4 linked regions of the Homo sapiens genome follow. The protein of the gene in region 3 purifies or fractionates together with the protein of the main gene of each other region. This does not show direct contact. Each region holds a gene or a part of one and is shown on either strand. Other genes may lie near its edges.

Region 1 (3,500 bases), on a different chromosome or scaffold from region 3:
GGATATACGCTGAGTAGGAGGCATGAGGGAAAGTAGGAGGGTTGTCGTTAATGTCTGCCACGTGCAGAGCGATTTGAGTTTCAGTGGACAGAGGTGGTGTTCCTAGATCTGAGGCCATCACTGTGATATTGTAGATAGAGACATTTTCTCGGTCCAAATATTTCCTTGTCACTAATCTATAATAATTACCTATTGACTTTTCTAATTTAAAAGGTAAATTATCACGTGTGTAACAGACAACTTGACCATTCTTTCCAGAGTCTTGGTCATGCACACTCAAGAAGGCAATTACTGTCCCGGGAAGAGAATTTTCTAACACTGGGCTAAACAAAGACGTAATGATCACTTCTGGTCTATTGTCATTTACATCTTCCACCGAAATGAGCAATTTGGTCCTCCCCAGAAGTGCCCCCACATCTTCGGCTTGTATTTCCATTTCATAAAATGAACATTCTTCATAATCTAGACTTTTTGCTATTGATATTTCCCCAGTATTTTCATTAAGCTGGAATAACGGAGTTTGTTTTTCATTAATTTTCCGGAATTTGTATGCCACTTTTCCGTTGATTCCCTCATCCGGGTCGCTGGCTGTTACAGTAAGCAGCCGCGTGCCTGGGGGCATGTTCTCAAGGACTTTCACTCGGTAAATCGGGTGAGGAAAAACCGGGGCATTGTCATTTGTATCCAACACTGTCACGTGGATGCGCACTGTGCTAGAGCGAGGCGGCTTGCCGCCATCCGAGGCCGTGAGGACCAGGTGGTGAGCAGCCTCTTCCTCCCTGTCCAGGGCGCGCTCCAGCACCAGCTCTGGGTTTATGGCTCCATTGTCTCCAGTCTGCACGTCCAGGGAGAAGTGGTGATTGGGGCTGAGCTGGTAGCTCTGGAGGGAGTTCACGCCCACATCCGGGTCAACAGCTTCTGGGAGTGGATAACGTGCTCCAGGAACCGCGATTTCGTTAATTTTTACTTCTAGATCTTCGACCTGGAATTTTGGGTTATTATCGTTAATATCAATTATTTCTATTTCTACCCCAAAGAGTTTTCCTTTATCCTCAACCAGGGTGTTAATATTTATCAGACACCGCGGGCTCTGAGCGCAGAGCTCCTCCCGATCTATCCTGCCCGCGGTGATCAAGCTGCCGCTGCGCGGGTTCAGAGCAAAGAGCTGCGTCCTACCTCTGGAGACGATACGGACTCCGTGCTTCGCCAGCTTCCGGGGGTCCAGCCCCAGGTCCTTGGAGATATTACCCACGAAGGAGCCTTTGTCCGTCTCTTCTGGCACAGAGTAGCGAATCTGTCCCCTCCCGATTTCCCACAGCGTTCCCAGCAGCGCGCACAGCAGGATCAGCTCGCCGCGTCTGGGGCGACTCTGTGGAGCGGCCATTGTTGTTTTGCTGCAGAATCCTCTCAGAATCTTCACTGTGCATAAATGGGTCTTATTTAGTTTCTTGCCGCAGCTATGGAGATGACAATCCTCCGGAAACCTGGAGTGCCTCCAAACAGGGGTCGGGTTTCGCTGCAGTCCAGCAGTTAGTTTGTGGCATCTGCGGGTCTTCGTGAGGTGTGAGATCTGAGTGTTTTCGGTTGCATTTGTCTTCCAGTAGGTGAACAGCGGCGCTTACAGTCCTAAATAGTTACTGCACTGAGATACAGATTACTTCTAAATGTAATACTCTACTAGATTACTGAGAAAAAAAAATCATTTGCTTATTACTTTGTTTTGAATTTATTTGATTTATCCGTAAACCCATATTTTAAAAGAAACAGCCAAAGAATGTGAGATGAAGGTTTTATTTAGTGTTATTAAATGATCAGATTAGATCAGAATGATCAGATTGTAGCATCGGATTAAATTACTCACATTTCTGCAATACATTTGGTCTTAAAAAAAACATGATACTTTCATTTCCCATTGTGCTCTAAGCTTTATTGTAAATGTCTCCAATATATACTAACAAATAACTAAGAACTTCAGTTGTCACCAGAAATGAATTTATCTTGAGACTAAAATAGACCTACTGGAGATGACTGACTCAGAAATTGTTTTATTTGGTTTAAACTACTTAATCATTTTACAAGCTTTCTATAGAGTTGTTGCTTTTAAATTATTCTTCTAAATGCCACTTGAATTACATGTCGATAATATTTTCAAATAAAAATTGTGGAATTTCAATAGGATAAATGCTTTTACCATTGCAGTTTTATGAGATATTACATTGTTTTGCTATTTTATTTACATTGTTTATATTTTTCTATTTGAATACTTGAAAGGTACAGATGAATATATGATAAAAAGCAAAGCTCCATCCCATCCCTTTCACCAAAGAGATGATTAAATTTAAAGCAGACTTGACTTTTACATATATTCTAAAATTAACTTTACCTACATTAACACTTTGATCTAAAAAACTGCAAAAAGTAATGACTATATAATACTTACTAAGAAGCCAAAGGATAAGTATGACTACAAAAAAGTCTGTTTCCCTTCAAGACCAGCCTGGGCAACGTAGCAGATGAACTTATTTCACCCTTCCTTTGAAGACTGGTATGATAGTTTTTTCACTGACTAAAACTTTCTTAAAACCACTCATGAAATCTGAAAACTTTATATTTTCCTGTGAATATATTTTCTTATGCATATGGAAAACTGGGTAGACAATGGAAACCATACCAGTTAAATTAGTGAAAGAAAATATTTTCTCTACTGAAAACAGAAAAATTAGCCAGGTCTGGTGGCATGAGCCTGAGTTCCAGCTAGTCAGGAGGCTGATGCAGAAGGAATGCTTGAGCCCAGGAGTTTGAGGCTGGAGGGAGCTATCATTGTGCCACTGCACTACAGCCTGAGTAACAGACAGAGACTCTGTCTCAAAAAAAAAAAAAGAAAAAAAAAAGAATCGAAAGACGTTTCCTTCTTTCAGCAATTTGTAAAGTGGCCATTAACTGAAGCAGTTGCTTAGATATACCTAGCAAAAGGCTCATATAATGTTCCTTGGTATTTTGTATATATTTTGTATGCACACCAGATTGGCAGTTTTCAAGACTATATTTCTTTCCTAGAGGTAGGAGAATGATTAGAAGACCTCTAGCTATATTAGTTTAGGGCTGCAGATAAGGCAGTTACACATTATATATTAGGGCTGTGTGTGAGAGGGACAACAGACACAAAACATTGTCTTTTCTTTGATGAAGGATATAGAATGAGCTTGAATACAGATTAATCCTGAAACTCCTATGTTACAAGTAAGGAGAATCTGCTTTTGATCTTCTAATGAGCATAGTAGACCTTTTTCTAAGTAAAAGGATCTCTCTCACACACACACACACACACACGCACACACAGCGTACACTGCATATAATCACAAGGGGTCCATGGACATAAAAATCCAGTTGACTCCTTATTCTAAGAGCTTTTGAAACAAAAGGGAAGTTAACACAGGAAACAAAACAGTGGACTACTATGGAGACCATACCAGTTAAATTAGTTAAGAAAAGTGTTGAAT
Region 2 (3,500 bases), about 30 Mb from region 3:
CTGCTGGGAACTGTGTGGTTGTGTCATCCTCCTTGTCAGAGATTTAACCACCAGCCCTCTGCCACATGTCTCAGCATCTCCATTCCTATCACATACACCTCCATACATCAAACAGTGTATGTAGCACTTGCCAAAAATATGGAAGATGAACACCACGTACCACATAATTGTGCTACCCTCATCTTCAAACCTTGTGTAATACGACACCATCTTCTATCCCTATGTGCATACCACATAGACAACCCCTCGTACCATACATGCAAGGTATATTTCCATTTCATACTCCCCATGGACACACATACCCTCCCTGCATCCCTGCACATGCCACCCACACACACACCTAGTCCTAACTTCCAAGAATAATTCCTCTCTCCCCAGGATCATCCTGGGCCCCATATGGCATTGCCTGACCACATTCCTCAGTGCCCCAGTCACTCCCTGCCTTCCTTACTCTTCTCAGCCCCAGGGAGATGCATTTTACCAGCAGAGCCACCCACACCCAAGACCAGAGCTATGACCAAGGCATATGAGCTCAAAAAGCCCCAGCCCACCAGCAGGAGTGGGTCTGCCGTGAACTGTGTTTTAAGGATCCAGTGTGCCTGGGGAAGGCATTGAGCATTTGCAGAACCACTCTACTGTAGCCCTCCCCATCTTGGGACACAGCCCATAAGACAAGACTACTGGCCGGGTGCTGTGGCTCATACCTGTAATCCCAGCACTTTGGGAGGCTGAGGCGGGCGGATCACCTGAGGTCAGGAGTTCGAGACCAGTCTGACCAACATAGAGAAACCCCATCTTTACTAAAAATACAAAATCAGCCGTGCGTGGTGGTGCATGCCTGTAGTCCCAGCTACTCAGGAGGCTGAGGCAGGAGAATCGCTTGAACACGGGAGGTAGAGGTTGTGGTGAGCTGAGATCACGCCATTACACTCCAGCCTGGGCAACAAGAGCGAAACTCCATCTCAAAAAAAAAAAAAAGACAAGACTACTGAGTCAGCCTCTACCAGCCAACAGTTTACAGTGGACCTAGAGCCTTATTAGAAGGGCTGCTAGCAGGACTGGTCCCTGGCCCCTGATAGCCCCTTATCCTCAGGGAACACGGGTAGGATACTGTCCCCATTCCCCTAGCAACTGGCAGGTTTCCTATTTCAAGCCATATGGACCATCCAAAACCCTGAAGCTGCCATGAGCTGACAAATAGCCCTGCTCCACCTGATGACTACAGTCACCACTCTCCACCTACTAAGACCATCATCTGCCCAGGTGTAGGGACCTAGGCTGGACTGCTGACTCTGGGGCTGAGCTAGGCCAGACTCCAGCTTGGTCCTTCCAGTCCAAGCTTTCTCTGTTTCCCCTTCAGTCCCCAGCTAAGACCCAGGCTGTGTGGGAATAAGTCTTATGTTATAGTCCCTCAAGGCAAGGAAGAGAAGAAATGTCCAGAAAGACCCTTACCAGAAAGACTGTGCCGAGCAGCAGTCAGGGTAAAGTTGCTCCTCAAGGGGGTATGCAAGGACGCATGCCGTACCACACACTGGTAGACAGTCCCAGGGTCTTCCTGAGAGGAGTTCAGCTTCAAGCAGCTAGTGACATTAAATGTGCCATCCATATTCTTGATGGTGGGACCAGTGATGACATCCTCAGAAATCTCTATGGGATGGGGAAACTTCTGGGTCTGCTTCTCCCATGTTATATTAATAGCCTCTGGGTAGAACCCACTTGACTCACACATATATTTGTCTTCATTCTCTTTCATGCCCACTTGATCCAGCAACAATCTGCTGGCTGGGGAAGCTGTCAGGGAAAAAAAATCATACAGAGTTGGGCCCAGCACCCTTTTATCCCCACCACACCTTATGCTAACTGGCTTCTACCATACCCTCACAGCTATGCATCACTGCTCCTGTAGCCAGATAAGACAAAAAACACAGGATGCCTACTCTTTAAAAATGCTGCAACCATGTCCAGCAATGAGCTGGAGATTTACAATACCAGACTGGGCACTCCTTAAGGGTAGGGAGGGATTAGCTTATTATCAGCCTGACATCTGAGCCATGGTAAGCCTTCAGGACATGTGAGTGACTGAATGCAAGTCAGCTTGGGCTAAATATTCTGGGTATGTTGGTGCCAGTGCCAACCGGGTACTGACATGCTGTGACCACAACTCTCACAGCAATTTTGTAAAGCAGAGTTTTCTTAAGCTGTGTTGTGAAACAGACACCTTTCATAATCTGAGGAAAGCCTTGGAACACTGTTGTGGTAGAGACTGCTAATTGCTCTTCAATTTCCATTCTGTGCATTTTTAGCTGGCCATGACATATCCAGATTAAACCTGTATCACCCAACCTCCACTGCAGGTATGTTTGGTCATGCAAACTCAGGGGTCTAGTAGGCCTGGATTTATGCAAAAGTGGCAAGAGCAACTTCTAGGAAGTATCCTTAAACTAAAAGGATGTCTTAAAAGACTGTCTCTTTCTCTCTCTCTCCTTATTTCCTGCAGAATGTTTGGAATACTATGTGATGACTGGAGATGGATAAGCCATTTCCAAACACAAGGTGGACGATACATACTGAAGATGGCAGAGTGACAAGATAAAAGGATCATGGGTCCCAGATGATCACAGAGCTAGCTGCCATATCTGCCCTGGGCTGGCTACATTAGTGTGAAAGAAAAATAAACTGCCATTTCCAAAGCCACTATTGACTTCCAGGTTTCCCTCTCACATGAGAGGTCATCACTCCCACCCTATAATAAGAACAAAAGCTGAACAAATTGAAAATCAACAGCTTTTCTTAGATTCCTCAGAGAATTGAAGTGACAGGGCAAACTGCCACTCAGAAAACTGGAGAAAGAAGGAGATTAAGAAAATTACAGCTAAGATCAAATCACCTCATGCAGAAGCTGCTGGAGTCATAAACCAGTAGAAGTACTTAAGCAGTAACTCCGACAAACTGCTAAAGGATGAGTGTGGACTAGCTTGAGAATAAAAACCTCCTCAGGTCCTGGTCTTAGGGATGCTTACCACACTTTCATGGGTTTTCATCCTCGGGACCCAGTCTTGGGGATGCTATCACACTGTCATGAGTTTTACTTCCAGGAACCCCACCAGATTCTCACAGTAAAGAGCCAAGAAAAATCTCCTCCTCTTTCTGGGGGATGGAAAGAAGTAATCATTTTAAAATATACCTAGATTATTCCCTCCATCTCAAGGGAAGATGTCAGAGCCTTATCTGACCTGAGAGAAGAAAATTAGCCAACTCCAGCTGTCTATAGCCTTTCTGTATTACTTAAGAAGAGAGAAAGAGAAAAGGCTAAGAAACACTTCTGAAGGCCACAGTCCAGAGGCTCAGGCCACTAAAAGAATAAGATTTAATCATAAAAGTATAAACAGATTCTCCTCCAACACTTTACTACCACATCAACAGGGCTCCAGTATAATAACAGAAGATTATAAGTGAGAGAGCTACAAGGCACAGAACCTATTTAAGGAGTTCATAAGGAA
Region 3 (5,314 bases):
TGAGACCCTGCCTCTAAAATGCATAGATAGATAGATAGATAGATAGATAGATAGATAGATAGATAGGTAGATGTTTTTAGTGAAAAGCCTACCCCTTTGCCTCCATCTGCCCAGTTTCCATCCATCCTCAGCCTCCCAAAAGTAACCACTATTATTGTTTTCCTGTGTATCTTTCCAGAGTTTATTATATACATAAAGGAGTATACAGTGCATACTTTTTCATTTAATACATCTTGAAGTAATTTCCGTTTCTTTTGTTTTTTCTTTTCTTTCTTTCTTGAGACAGAGTCTCACTCTGTCACCCAGGCTGGAGTGCAGTGGCACCATCTCGGCTCACTGCAACCTCCACTTCCTGGGTTCAAGCCATTCTCCTGCCCCAGCCTCTCAAGTAGCTGGAACTGCAGGCACGAGCCACCACACCTGGCTAAGTTTTTGTATTTTGGGTAGAGATAGGGTTTCTCCATGTTGCCCAGGCTGCTTTTGAACTTCCTGAGCTCAAGCGATCTGCCCACCTTGGCTTCCCAAAGTCCTGGGATTATAGGCGTGAGCCACTGCGCCTGGCCTCGAAGTAATTTCTCAGTCAGTAGGGAGCTTCTTCGTTCTTCATGAAATTCATTTTTAGCTATATAGTATTTAAATAATTTATTTAACCAGTCCCGCACTGGTAAACAAGTTGTTTTTAGCCTTTTGCTGTTACTAAGAATGCTGCAATGAATAACCTGCAGTTTTGTTCCTTTGCAAGTGTATCTGCAAGAATAAGTTCCACAAAGTGGAATTGGTGGATTAAGGGCATATGCATTGAAGTACTTATAGATATTGTCAGATTGCCCTTAATAGGTGTTGTACCATTTTGCCACCAGCAATGAAAGAGAATGCCTGTTTCCCCATTGTGCTGACAACAAAATACATCAAACTTGGATTTTTTTCAATCTAAGTGACAGATAGTCTGAGTAGATTTAATATGCATTTTTAAATGAAGTTGAGTGCCTTTTTACCAAGTTTAAGGGCTGATTGGTCTTTGAAAGCTATATATATACACATATATACATGAACATATATATAGACATATATATAGAGAGAGAGCTTAAGACAGTGACCACATCCATTAATCAGCTAAAAGGGGATATCACAGACAATTTTGTATCTAATGAATAACAGTATCAATGTCAAGCAATGCCTAGACTTTTTTCCAAAGATTTTATGTATTTTATTACCCAGTACTCAATGAATATATGAAATATTTGAAAAGGCTAGTTCATTGTTCAGTTCCTTGGGTGTTTGCTGTTTGAATTTTATGTCTCAAAGGCTTGGCAGATTTGGTGTATTGGTGCCTTGGTGAATAGAAGTTGGTGGTCTCTTCATAAATGGCGTTTTCAGGAAGGCCAATTCAGTGGCAGTGTTGAGAATGAATCTACAAACAGAATCAGAGTCTCAGGTTGGTTGAAAAAGCTTCAATGTTTGTGAAGCCCAACCAATCACCTAATAATTGAATCCTATACAAATGCTTCTTCATGCTTTGTTGCATATTTAAGTGTCTTAATTCCTTGTCCTAACCACTAACTAGACATTCATACTGCCCTCAGCATGGTCACACCCCTCACTGCCTTCTCCTGGTTCATCAAACCGTATCACTCTGCTGAAATGCGTTTGTCTTTAGTTGAGAACTATCCCTGCCTTTTACAATTTGTCTCTCTTAGAGGCATGCTGCTTTGACCTATTCACCCTCAATTTTTTTTTTCTTTTTTCTTGAGACGGAGTCTCGCTCTGTCACCCAGGCTGGAGTGCAATGATGTGATCTTGGCTCACTCCAACCTCCGCCTCCAGGGTTCAAGTGATTCTCGTGTCTCAGCCTCCCAAGTAGCTGGGATTACAGGCACCTGCCACCATGCCCAGCTAATTTTTGTATTTTTAGTAGAGACAGAGTTTCACCATGTTTGCCAGGCTGGTCTCGAACTCCTGACCTCAGGTGATCCACCCACCTTAGCCTCCCAAAGTGCTGGGATTACAGGTGTGAGCCACCACGCCTGGCCAACCTATTCACCCTCAATCTAATGACCGTTTAAAACCACTCCCTACAGAATAGATTAATAAAATATTTCCTGATTTAAATTTTTAAATACCTGTGATTTTTCCATTTGTTTTTATTTTTATACATTATAAAGTTACTTGTATGTGTAAGCCTAAAGAAGACTATACTTATAGAGAAAACAAAACTGCAGACTGGAAAGCCCTAGGCATTCAGTGAAACCCAAAAGCTAAAGTTGAGTTCCCCTTGGTTAGTGTATCTGGAGACCTCTCTTTAGGATTATGGTGTAAATTACAGGGATACCTATCCAAAGAATATCTAGAGATATCCCTTTCTCCCTGCTAGCTAGGGATTGTATTTACCTTTCTGACTATTAGTGAAGAAATCAATCTTTTATCATGTTGGGTAAACTGATCCTTTCCCCACTGACTTTGTAGATTAGGAACCTGTAATCATGGCCTTGCATGGCTTAAGATCTTAAGATCATCACTAAAGAATAGCTTAGTGATGTTCATGTCTGCAGTCATCAGAATGTAGTGATAAAAATTGTGTTAATGCCTAGGCCTGAAGAGAGAAAGGAGAGTCTGGTAAGGAGATGAAATAAGTATAGACCCTCTCTGTAGGACCCGCAAAAGGTTTCCAGCCTTATGAAACCTACTTAGTGGAAGCTTCTGCCAGAGGCTGAAGGTGTGTCTGTGTATCTGGTTGGGTGTGGCGAGCTCTCTAGAGCCAAAGGGCAGCCTGTTCTGGTCCCAGGTTTGCCAAACATACCACCTACGTGCTGACCTGAGTATAAGCATGAGGGCGTGAGGTTTATTTTTTACTCCACCTAATTTGGTGAGGTGCATGCTTTCACTCACGCTCCAAGTTGCCTCTTCTTTTCCATGGAACCTGCTTATTCTCACTACGGTTGATAGTGGGTTAGTATAATAGATAACTCTAGAAATCAAAGATGGCCTTTCTCCTTTGGGGACTAGACATTTAGAAGAATCACAATAAATTGGGTAGTTTTTTTTTTAAGCTATAGTTTTTGAACTCTTCCTATATGCCTGGCACTGTGGTTTATCTCATTTAATTTTCACAACTACCATATGAAGTGGGTACTCTTACTGGTCCCAATTAGTAGTTATTAATATCATCTTCTCATTTTATAAATAAGGAAGCTGAGGCTTAGAAAGGCTAATTGATTTGCACAAGGTCACACAGGCAATGATGCATAGTAAACAGGGGTTCATACCCAGGTTTGTCATATTCCACAGCTTGTGTTTTTTCCTCTTCACTAAAAAGATAAAAACAAACCAAAAAACCCCTATTGGTTCAAAGGGCAGTAATTCTTGCTTCCTTATTAAGGATGAGGCTCTTGCAAATAAATTTCTTGGGAACAAGAATTGTGTTTTACTCATCATTGTCAACCTTCTATCATTGTCTACCTTCTATCACTGTATACCTTCTATCATTGTATACTCTCCTACACTTAATTCATACGTATATGTGAAATGGAATATGAATAATCTGACCTTAGGGTACCCTAAACATGAGTAGCTAACAAAAGCAACCGAGACTTATTAAGAACTTACTCTGTACCAGGTACCATTTTAAATGCTTTACATATATTGATGTATATGAAGATAGTTTCAGTTGTTATCTCCATTCGGCAGATGAGGAAACTACACACAAAGATACCAAATAACAAGTTGTAAGTGGTGGATCCAGAATTCTAACCCAGCAGTCTAATTGAAGTCCACATGGTTAAACTCTATGCTATAAATACTTTGAGCAACTCCCAAAGTGGGGCTCCAACTATTGTGTAGACCTATACGTGGATCCTGGAGTAAGGTCAAGTGATTCCAGTGTCTTCATTTAACATTTCTGCCATGAGGAGGCATCCGAGGAATGAGGATGGATCAGGGAATGGTAAAATTTCCAATTTCTTCTTGCCACTGGACTCATCTCTCAGAGGCAGGCAGTGAGGAAGATAACTTCTACCATTTGGGAGAATTTTATTGACAATCATCTTTGTACTTTGGGTAGCTGTATGACCTAGAAGAAATCACTTAACCTCTCTGTGCCTTAGTTTCCACATCTCCAAAATGTGGGTGGTAATAGTACAGTCATGGTGGCTTACGCCTATATTCCCAGCACTGTGGGAGGCCAAGGAGGGAGGATTGCTTGAGCCCAGGAGTTTGAGACCAATGGGACATAGTGAGACTTCGTCTCTACTAAAAATAAAAAAAAAATAGCTGGGTGCAACAGCATGCATCTGTAGTCCCAGTTACTCAGGAGGCGGAGGTGGGAGGATGGCTTGAGCCCAGGAGGTCAAGGCTGCAGTGAGCTGTTTTCACACCACTGCACTCCAGCCTGGGTGACAAAGTGAGACCCTTTCTCAAAAAATTTAAAAAAGGCCAGGCATGGTGGCTCATGCCTATAATCCCAGCATTTTGGGAGGCCGAGGCGGGTGGATCACCTGAGGTCAGGAGTTCGAGACCAGCCTGGCCAAAATGGTGAAACCCCATCTCTACTAAAAATGCAAAAATTAGCAGAGCGTGGGGGTGTGTTCCTATAGTCCCAGCTACTCAGGAGGTTGAGACACGAGAATTGCTTGAACCCGGGAGGAGGAGGCTGCAGTGAGCTGAAATCTCACCACTGCACTCCAGCCTGGGTGACAGAGTGAGACTGCTTCTCAAAAAAAAAAAAAAAAAAATTGTGCTTGCCTCATACATGTAAGCATTTATCCTGTTAGAGCACCTGTGTAGGTGCTCAATAAATATTAGCTGCTAGTGTTATTACCATATTTTTGTGCAAATACGTAAACATCTGGTGGCAACCAGGAATGTGTGCCTCTCAGATCTCCTACACTGGGGAGGGGAGGGTAATTGACTCCTGACCCCAGCTCTGAATCTAACACCTTGTTCACACTGAGGTCACACTTTCCACAGACTGCTCCTAGTCAATGACTGGGCAGGACAGACCCACTTCCATGAGATGTTTTACTCCTCTAGTGGGTGACTTTGGCTTAAAGACTCTCACTGCACACTGCTAAGTCCCTCATTCTCCCTTCTCCCTCCTAAAGGAGGGATAATAATTAGGGTCCCTCCTAAAGGAGGGATAATAAATTAGGGTCACACCTGCATTTGATCTCTTAGCTCTCCCAGACTCCTCCGGCTTCCTTCCCATTTTCTATCATGGGCGTTTCCCCCAGTACATCTCTCGCATGTCTGATCCTGTTTTGGTGTCTGTTTCTCACAGTATCTGAGCTAAGACAACATCTAACAGTTACTGATATAGTCT
Region 4 (2,204 bases), on a different chromosome or scaffold from region 3:
CACTGCCCCACAGACTGGATGCAATGAGGGGCTCACAGGAGGCCCAGCCAGCCCGATTGTGGGCTGAGGGGTCTGCATTCAAGCACGATGTTCTAGAATAGGAGTTTAACGTGTCTACGTAACCTAGAATGTGGTTATTAGGAAAGGGGCTGTGCATGTGGGTGCAGCTGGCGGCACACCTGGTCACCAGATGGCCAGAAGCTGCCCATCAGCCCTGCCCAGATGTCAGCCTGGGAGCTCAGGCTGCTGCCGCTGGCTGGATGCCCTTTGGTGAAATGCCTGTTTTCAGCTAAGAAAGGAGAGGCCAGGCAAGCAAAGTCATGCCACAAAGCATATCAGAGACCCCCGCAGACTCCTGGCCCCGTCCCGCCCCCTGTCTGAGTTGTGTTTTTGTTGCTGTTCCTCTGTTGATGGCCAGCTCTGCTGTTGGCATGAGCCACTGATGTTCATGTGAGAATTACTGTTTTTAAGTGTCTCTCCACTTAGGTGTCCTCAGTTCCCACTTTTGCTCTCATTTGCCTTCACAGAGGCCACTCCACCTGTCCGGATCCAGCTGTCTGGTCATGGTTTGGTTTATTTATTTTGTCCTTCAGGGGCTGTTTTGCCCTAAGAATGAGGGGGCTTCCCCTGGTCTGCAGTTCCCAACTTTATCCCTTGCTGGCCATGCGAGCCCAGCCCTGGTGCCTCATGGGATGGGGGGGTAGGGGTCCCCAGGATCTTCTGGAGGAAGGTGGCCATGGATGGATGGGCTGTATCTGTGTTTTCCCTCTGGGAGTCTCATGGGTCCAGCATCAGGCCTGAGGTCAGCAACAGGGAAAGAGGGTGGGCACGGGGAGGGCTTGGCCCCGCCTATCTAGAGGCTTGCCTCGGGCCCCTCCTTGGGGAAGGTTTGCGTGCAGAGCTGCAAGGGAGAGGGTTCCAGAAGCATTGCCTTTTGCCTCGTCTAATAGGATCCTTAGGACACTGTGGGCTTTAGGAATGACTATAGATGCTCACACGTGTTTAAAGTGACATTTGGAGATGCTCTCAGTCCTGTGGCATCTGGCACGAAGTCTCCAAGAAGCCACTTTGCCTCTTCTCCCTTCAAGCACAAGCTTTACTGCAAAAGGGCCAGTCGCGTTTCTATTTCTCTCGATCCCAGGCTTCTGCGGACCGACGATACGTTTAAATGTTGTTCTAGTAAATATTCTTGAATGTATTAAAATGGCTGAAACAACAAGCTTGGGCTTTTCTAGCTTGCCCTCCACTCCCTGCCGTCCCTCTGACGTCGCATAAACCAGAACCCAGCTCCCTCCTGGGACTGGCTGTGGAGAGAAGGGCACCTCTGAGCCAGCCTGTGGCCCTACCCCAAGGCGCACTTCCTCATGTGGGCAGATCCTGACCAGGAGTCCAGGGTGGCCTCCCCTGGGCCACAGCACATCACCGTGTGGCCTGGGGCTGTGGGACAGTGAGCCCTGTAACCACTAGGGTTCTGTGACAGATGCCAAGACCCCAGAGACCGTGGCAGAGCTACCCCCAGGAGAGCGGAAGCCCCTACACAGCCCAGACACATGCCTTCCCTGGGGGCTGGGGAGTGTGTCTCGAGGGGTTTTGTTTGTTTTGAGGCATGTATCATCTTGGAAATAATTGTCAGGATGTATAAAATAGAGAAAAAGAAAAAAGGTATCCTACCCAGAGGCAACCAGATAAACTTTTTTGCCTGTGCATTGTTTTTTGTTGGTTTTTTCGAGACGGGGTCGATCACGGCTCACCACAGCCTTAACCTCCAGGGCTCCAGCAATCCTCCCACCTCAGCCTCCTGAGTAGCTGGGACCACAGGTGTGTGCCACCATCTCCAGCAGTTTGTTTATTTATTTTTTCTTTTTTTTTTTTTGGTAGAAATGGGCTTTTCGCCATGTTGCCCAAGCTGGTCTTGCACTTCTGGGCTGAAGCAATCCTCTCGCCTTGGCCTCCCAGAGCCTTGGGATTACAGGTGTGAGTCACTACAGTGATTGTGAATGCACTGAGCTGGCCTGGAGAACACTTACCACCTTGTCCACGTCACATGCAAAAGGCCCATGGTGGTGGTGCTTCCTGCACACGAGGGCATGTAGTGAATGCCCTTCCCAGGTGGAGACTCCTCAGGGTTGGGAGCCCAGCAACTGCCTTGGCCCTGAGTAAGCCAGGAGTTGCACTGTGACCTGCAAGTGCTTGGGAGCTGCACC

Evidence for each region.
Region 1: the proteins of CSTPP1 (region 3) and PCDHGB4 purify together in Homo sapiens (co-immunoprecipitation; one large-scale study listed by IntAct). This does not show direct contact.
Region 2: the proteins of CSTPP1 (region 3) and NCR3LG1 purify together in Homo sapiens (co-immunoprecipitation; one large-scale study listed by IntAct). This does not show direct contact.
Region 4: the proteins of CSTPP1 (region 3) and SPECC1L purify together in Homo sapiens (affinity purification with mass spectrometry; one large-scale study listed by BioGRID and IntAct). This does not show direct contact.

What each region holds. Positions count from the first base shown.
Region 1 is NC_000005.10:141,390,698-141,394,197, reverse strand, and holds part of PCDHGB4 (protocadherin gamma-B4 isoform 1 precursor), read right to left. Parts: intron 1,566-3,500; exon of another isoform or gene 1,385-1,565; coding exon of another isoform or gene 1-1,384. Other genes in the region: PCDHGA8 (protocadherin gamma-A8 isoform 1 precursor), read right to left, coding at 1-1,384. UniProt on the Homo sapiens protein: Potential calcium-dependent cell-adhesion protein. May be involved in the establishment and maintenance of specific neuronal connections in the brain.
Region 2 is NC_000011.10:17,365,300-17,368,799, reverse strand, and holds part of NCR3LG1 (natural cytotoxicity triggering receptor 3 ligand 1 precursor), read right to left. Parts: intron 1,792-3,500; coding exon 1,453-1,791; intron 1-1,452. UniProt on the Homo sapiens protein: Triggers NCR3-dependent natural killer cell activation.
Region 3 is NC_000011.10:46,939,610-46,944,923, forward strand, and holds part of CSTPP1 (centriolar satellite-associated tubulin polyglutamylase complex regulator 1), read left to right. Parts: intron 1-5,314. UniProt on the Homo sapiens protein: Regulator of the tubulin polyglutamylase complex (TPGC) that controls cytoskeletal organization, nuclear shape, and cilium disassembly by balancing microtubule and actin assembly.
Region 4 is NC_000022.11:24,416,035-24,418,238, forward strand, and holds the end of SPECC1L (cytospin-A), read left to right. Parts: 3' UTR 1-1,704; downstream 1,705-2,204. UniProt on the Homo sapiens protein: Involved in cytokinesis and spindle organization. May play a role in actin cytoskeleton organization and microtubule stabilization and hence required for proper cell adhesion and migration.